Regions from separate parts of the Homo sapiens genome. Here region 2 is linked to region 1. The links come from fine-mapping of genetic effects on gene expression. A gene starts in region 1. The other region holds a variant in brackets. All regions are shown on one strand. Distances are from middle to middle. Region 1 holds the start of KIAA1217. Region 2 overlaps KIAA1217.

Evidence for each region. PIP is the estimated chance that this variant, and not a neighbour inherited with it, causes the effect.
Region 2: its variant is fine-mapped to the expression of KIAA1217 in esophagus mucosa (GTEx, PIP 0.90).

The regions. Positions count from the first base shown.
Region 1 is chr10:24,207,771-24,210,684 of GRCh38, reverse strand. It overlaps KIAA1217, which reads right to left and starts at 1,547. Exons shown (of 21, transcript NM_019590.5): 1 at 1,422-1,547. The coding sequence starts at 1,491. RefSeq lists enhancers at 729-788, 162-1,361 and a silencer at 1,079-1,128.
Region 2 is chr10:24,248,785-24,251,698 of GRCh38, reverse strand. All of the region lies in intron 2 of KIAA1217, which reads right to left. Among named protein-coding and RNA genes, the nearest start is that of MIR603, 25 kb to the left of the region's middle. The variant C/T (reference allele first, on the strand shown) is at 1,589.

The DNA.
Region 1 (2,914 bases):
CTGAATGAATGAATTAGTGAGCAAAGGAGCACACTGTCTCAGGCTGACCATCCTAGCCTCTGAAGCCTCTGAATTGCCCTGATTGTTGGAAAGTCATTTCTTAAATGGATCCCTTTCTAATGGCCCCTCTAGAATCTGAGTCATCTCTTTCAGGACAGGCCCAGAGGTTGAATTCCTGAAGTAGGATCCTGTCCTAGAAAATGGGGGTGGGGGGTTGCGGGGGTCAGGGGGACGAGGTAGCCTTATCTTCCACTGGATGCCACTGACCCCGGTAGCCTGAAGGAGAGTGCTGTGCTTTGGCAGCACGAAGGCAGACACTTCGACAGATGACTGTTCAGACTCAGGGATTCTCCAGCCATTACAAAACTTCAAGTTTTCTGCATTTCACTGGGGGATTTCTATCTCTTGTCATTGTAAGTTCTCCTGACTGGCTTAGCTTTGCATTTTCAGCGTGGATGAGTCATGTGTTACTTCCCTTTCACATTTTCATAAAACACACACCTTTTCCCCTGTGCATAATCCCTACTCCCACGCACAGCACTGCACTCCCGCACGTCTTTTTGTTGTGTACTGGCCCCTGCATGAACCTGAGGGAGGGTGGGGCGGGTGGTCCAGGGCTGTGTGGTTTATGAACATGCTGCCTATAGGATCCCACAGAATCAGCTCTTGGCATCACAGGCATCAGATGCCAGAGAGCAGGGACCTCCTCTGGCCACCCAACCCGGTGCGAAATTTCTTTGGAACAACATAAGCTTCTGGAAATTCCCTACGGAAAAGACAAGTCTATTATAAACACAATTAAAGGGAAACTGCCTGGAGAAAATTTACCAAAATTGTCCAACAACTCCCAAGTTTTGAATTAAAACATAAAAGAAGATCCAGAGTTCTATCTATCACCCAGATGCTCAAGCCCTCCCCTGCTGCTCGGATCTGTAAAATAAAACATGCCTGGTTTCTGTGATTTAACTCTAAAATTCTGCACAAACTTTGCAGCCAGCATGCATCTGCCACATGGAATCCCCCAACCAATGAATGGAAGCTGCGGTCCTAGAGACAGTTTCACAAAAACAGCTCCTTTCTCCCGTGGCTGGAGCCCCGGGGGGAAATGATTAAAAGCTGCTTAGTGATTTATTTGTCATTGCTTAGAGATACAGCTCATGCTGATGGCTCACTGCACTACAAATGTGACATCACCCCACCACCTCTTTTGCTGCTTAAGAAAATCGTGCCAGAGATAAAGTCAAGCCTAAGAAATCACAGTTCTCTATGCTCTACTCAGTTTGGAAAATGTACCATCCCAAGAAATTGCCTTTTTTTTTTTTTTCCTTTGCCGGGTCCCAGAGCTGCAGTTTATAAAAAGCAGCAAGCGGCAAGGGGCACGCGTCCCTGTAACTCCATCTTTGAATGGGTCTGTTACTTACCCTGCATCTGTCTTCTGTCTGCTGAGTAAGGAAGGCACGGCTCACATTTCTGGCTTTCATTTTCTTCCATTGTCTCTGCCTGCCGCAAAAGCTCCTCGCTCTCTGGAAACTTCAGAGCGCAGTTCTAAAAGCTCCCAGAAAGCGCCTGGGAGGGGGCCCGGGGCTGGGGAGGAGGGGACGGTGCGAAACCCCACCCCAAACTATTTTCCACTCCGGTGCAAAGTCTCCCTCGCCCGAGAAAACTGCATTCCAGCGCGGGGCCTCTTGGATCTCCCCTGCCCCTGGCCCTCCGTCCCTAGGTCTGTCCGTCCGTCCGTCCGTCCGTCCTCAGGCGCGCTCTCCGGGGACTGGGGGCTGGGCTCTGCCAGGGCAGGGCGATGCGGGGGTGTGGGGGGGAGGCCTCAACAGGTGACGGCCTCTCCTACCCACAACTGGGCCTGCCTGGTTCCACTGCTGCAAACCACCGAGGCTCTGCAGCCGAGGAAGGAAAACATTTCACACATGATTAAGGCCGAGAGCCTTCGCTGGGAGCCAGTGCCCTCATCTCTTTAATCTCAGAGGCAGAGTGAGCCTCCCAAATCGGGTGATCCACATATTAAAAAACAGCAACCTGTTGAACCTCCCAAATTTCAGTGAACTCCCTTAAAAAAAAATCCCAAACAATTTGAAAGAAAGAGTATATGCTGAGTGTTGTAAGTAAGCACTTTCCGGCACTAACTTTTTAGGGCCCGATTAACATCTATGAAGAGGTATAGCGTCATTTGCACACAGTCGATTTCAATCACTTAATCTGGACTTTTTAAAAAAAAGTTTCTACGTACTTGCTCACTTTCTCAGACTCCTCCCTCCCCCAACACACTTACACACACACACACACACACACACACACCCAGCCCTTAATCACAAATCTGAAAGGTAAACTAGTAAAGTCAATCTTCTGAAGCTCTCCCAGTTAACGACTCCAAAAATCTGAAAGACAGTGAAAATGCATTTCTTTGGACAGGCAGAGTTACAACCAACATACTTCTCCTTTTAAACCACCTACAAATATTTATTTTGTTCTTTACCCAGTCCTTGAAAAACTGGCAGAGTTCCCAGAGAGTGAAAATAGGAGGCATGATGTCCGAAAAAAAAAAAAAAAAGAGGATGGGAAAATAATTTAGGCAACATTAGCTCTGCGATGTCAGATATCTCAGAGTAACACAGTAGCTAGGAGGAAGAGCGCGATTTTGTAACCTGTAGTAGCCCCGTCACAGGAGGGGTAAAAAAGGACAATGGTTAGTCTGGTGACCATACTTTGCCCCAGTTTACAGGGCATTCCAGCAAGGTTTGAGATTGATTTAGATCAAGAATGTGTGCTGAACAATGGCCAGCCTATGTTCCAGATTGTGACCTCGAGTGACCTGTGTGTTTTGGCAGTGGGGGTGACGTATTTTGGCCATTTAAGACATAAGGATGTGGAAGCACCTAACAGACAAAGGATGTAGGCCAAA
Region 2 (2,914 bases), 41 kb before region 1:
AGATTAGGGTCCCTATTTACAACAGGAGTTAGGCATGTAAGGGAGGCAGGTGTGGGATGGAGAGGGGGAGCCCCATCTTAATACAGCAGCTGTTACTTAGCTTTAGTGGAGGTTGTAACAAAGGAATCGGAACTCAATGTTTCCTGATCATCTGATTTTTTAAAATCAGGATGTAAGAAATTTTTTACATGAAAACTCCATTGTGCAGGCCTTTCTGGAGAAACTGACCCCAGGCCAGGGCCTCTGATCTGTTTTTTTCTTTCTTTTTTTTTCTTGTTTTTTTTTTTTTTTTTTTTTTGAGACAGTGTCTCTTTCTGTTTCTTAGGCTAGAATGCAGTAGTTACAATCACAGCTCACTGCAGCCTTGATCTCCCAAGCTCAAGGGATCCTCCCATCTTAACTTCCTGCATAGCTGGAACTACAGGCATGTGCCACCACATCAGGCTCAATTTTAATTTTAATTTAATTTTTTTGAGACATAGTCTCACTCTGTCGCCCAGGCTGGAGTGCAGTGGTGTGATCTCGGCTCACTGCAACCTCCGCCTCCTGGGTTCAAGTGATTCTCATGCCTCAGCCTCCTGAGTAGCTAGGATTACAGGGGTGCACCACCACACCCAGCTATTTTTTGTATTTTTAGTAGACACAGGTTTCATCATGTTGCCCAGGCTGGTCTCAAACCCCTGACCTCAGGTGATCCACCCACCTCAGCCTCCCAAAGTGCTGTGATTACAGGTGTGAGCCATAGCACCTGGCCTAATTTTTTTCATTTTTCTGTGAAGACAGGGTCTTCCTGTGTTGCTCAGGCTGATCTCAGATTGCTGGTCTCAAGCAATCTGCTCTCTCGACCTCCTTAAGTGCTGGGATTACAGGTGTGAGCCACTGCACCCGGCCCAATCTATTCTTATTCTGGCTTGCATCAATCATTGACCAATGAAAGTTGACAAATGTGGCCAGGCACAGTGGCTCACGCCTGTAATCCCAGCACTTTGTGAGGCCGAGGGGCGGGGGGTGGGCAGATCACTTGAGGTCAGGAGTTTGAGACCAGCTTGGCCATCATGGCGAAACTCCGTCTCTATTAACAATACAAAAAAAAAAAAAATTAGCAAGGCGTGGTGGCAGGCACATGTAGTCCCAGTTACTCCAGAGGCTGAAGCAGGAGAATCGCTTGAACCTGGGAGGTGGAGGTTGCAGTGAGCCGAGATTGCGCCACTGCACTCCAGCCTGGGTGACAGAGAGAGACCCCATTTCAAAAAAAAAAAGTGCCAAATGTGTCCCTTCAATTCCAGTCAGCACTTTTGGAAACACGCGTAAAATTGTTGCCAATGTGCATTCTGTGTGTTTGGGAGTCATTGTGCAAAATGCGTGGGCAGCAAGCACTCTTTTGTGAACCAAGTTCTATGAACCACCAAGTATTCTTTCTCTAGGCTGAATTCCAAGGCTCTGTTCAGAGAGTACAGGTTTCTGAAGGAAGGGATTTGATCTATGTATGCGGCTTTCTTCTTAAAATGCCAGGAAGAAGGTTGCTTAACAAATGCTTTTGACATTCCTGACAAGTAATCTCCAGGCTTGACTTCAGGGGTGAGTTACA[C/T]CTCTCCCTCCCCACGCCTTTTTGAGAGTATTGCCAACAAGCAGCAGCAAAACTGATGTTCTTCAACTCCACCCTTTGGTGCATCACTGAAATGGCAAAAAGGTAGGAGGTGCAGAGGAGAACTTCAGGCCACGGAGGCAAGAAGTCAGTCATTGATTCCTGGCATGATTGTGATAGTCGTGTTTGGAAATCCAACCCATAAAATGAGCCACCGGTTTCACAGCGCACACCTTAGAGATCTCAGAAACATGCCCTAGGCTTGCTTGAGTCACAATAGCTGGGTTCAAATCTCCACTCCTGTTGTCTAAAGAACGAACTGTCTAGGCTAGTCTCAGCCTTGGTTTACAGGTATCTCTCCGCAGGGTTTTTTTGGGAGAACTATATTTGAAATAATGTGTGTGAAAGTTTCTGAGATATAGTAAGTAATAATACTTGTGGGGATTCTAAGGCTTACTTGCAGTGATTTAAGTGTATATGGGGAATATTTTTATTGTATTGCATTGGCATGAATAAAGACATTTGAGATTTGGATGTTTACGTCTTAAAAAGCCAGTGGTATTTAATATTTGCAGGAAGAAAATGTTGTATTTACCCTATAATATAGGAAACTTGGCCCATTTTTCTAATGATATAGAAAAAGCTCAATTAGGCTTAAATATGACCTAGCACCACCCCAAGCCTACAGCACTTGTATTCTCTTTAATAAAAATTGCGTAAATTATAGCTTTCTCTTGATTTGCACAGTACGGGCTCAATTCTACCCCCTTTCCCCTAAGTAGAGTTGTTTCTTACTATTTTTCAGGTTAACCAACTAATGTCAGACATATGTTTCTTCACCAAACACTGCATTAGGGGACGTTTATTTTACATTTGTTCCCTTTTGCAAATATTTGCAGTTAGTTGCAGAACTGAGCTATTTTATGAAGTACAGAAAATATGTCCAGGGAAAACATAAGGTTTCAAAAGTAGCTTTTGAGAAGGAGAAAGGAAGAAAAGTCTAATTACAGTGAAGATAGGTACTGATTTGTGCTAAGAGAATGTATAAATCACGTCCACTACACTCGTGGTTTTAATGCATTCTGTGCATCTGAATTAAACAGGAGCTAGTGTTTGAAATTATGTCTAAAGCTTTCTTCAGTGATTTGAGAATATAAAAAGTAGTGTTTCTTTTCTTTCAAAAGACATCCCTCTCGCAGTGTGCCTTCTATTCTTGACTTGTCTTGCTATAAAAGAAAAAGCTCTCACAGTCTTTTCAAATCTAAATAGTCTGTACATTAAAACAGTTTCTTTTTTCATTTAGGAAACTGAATCATAGCTATACAGTTA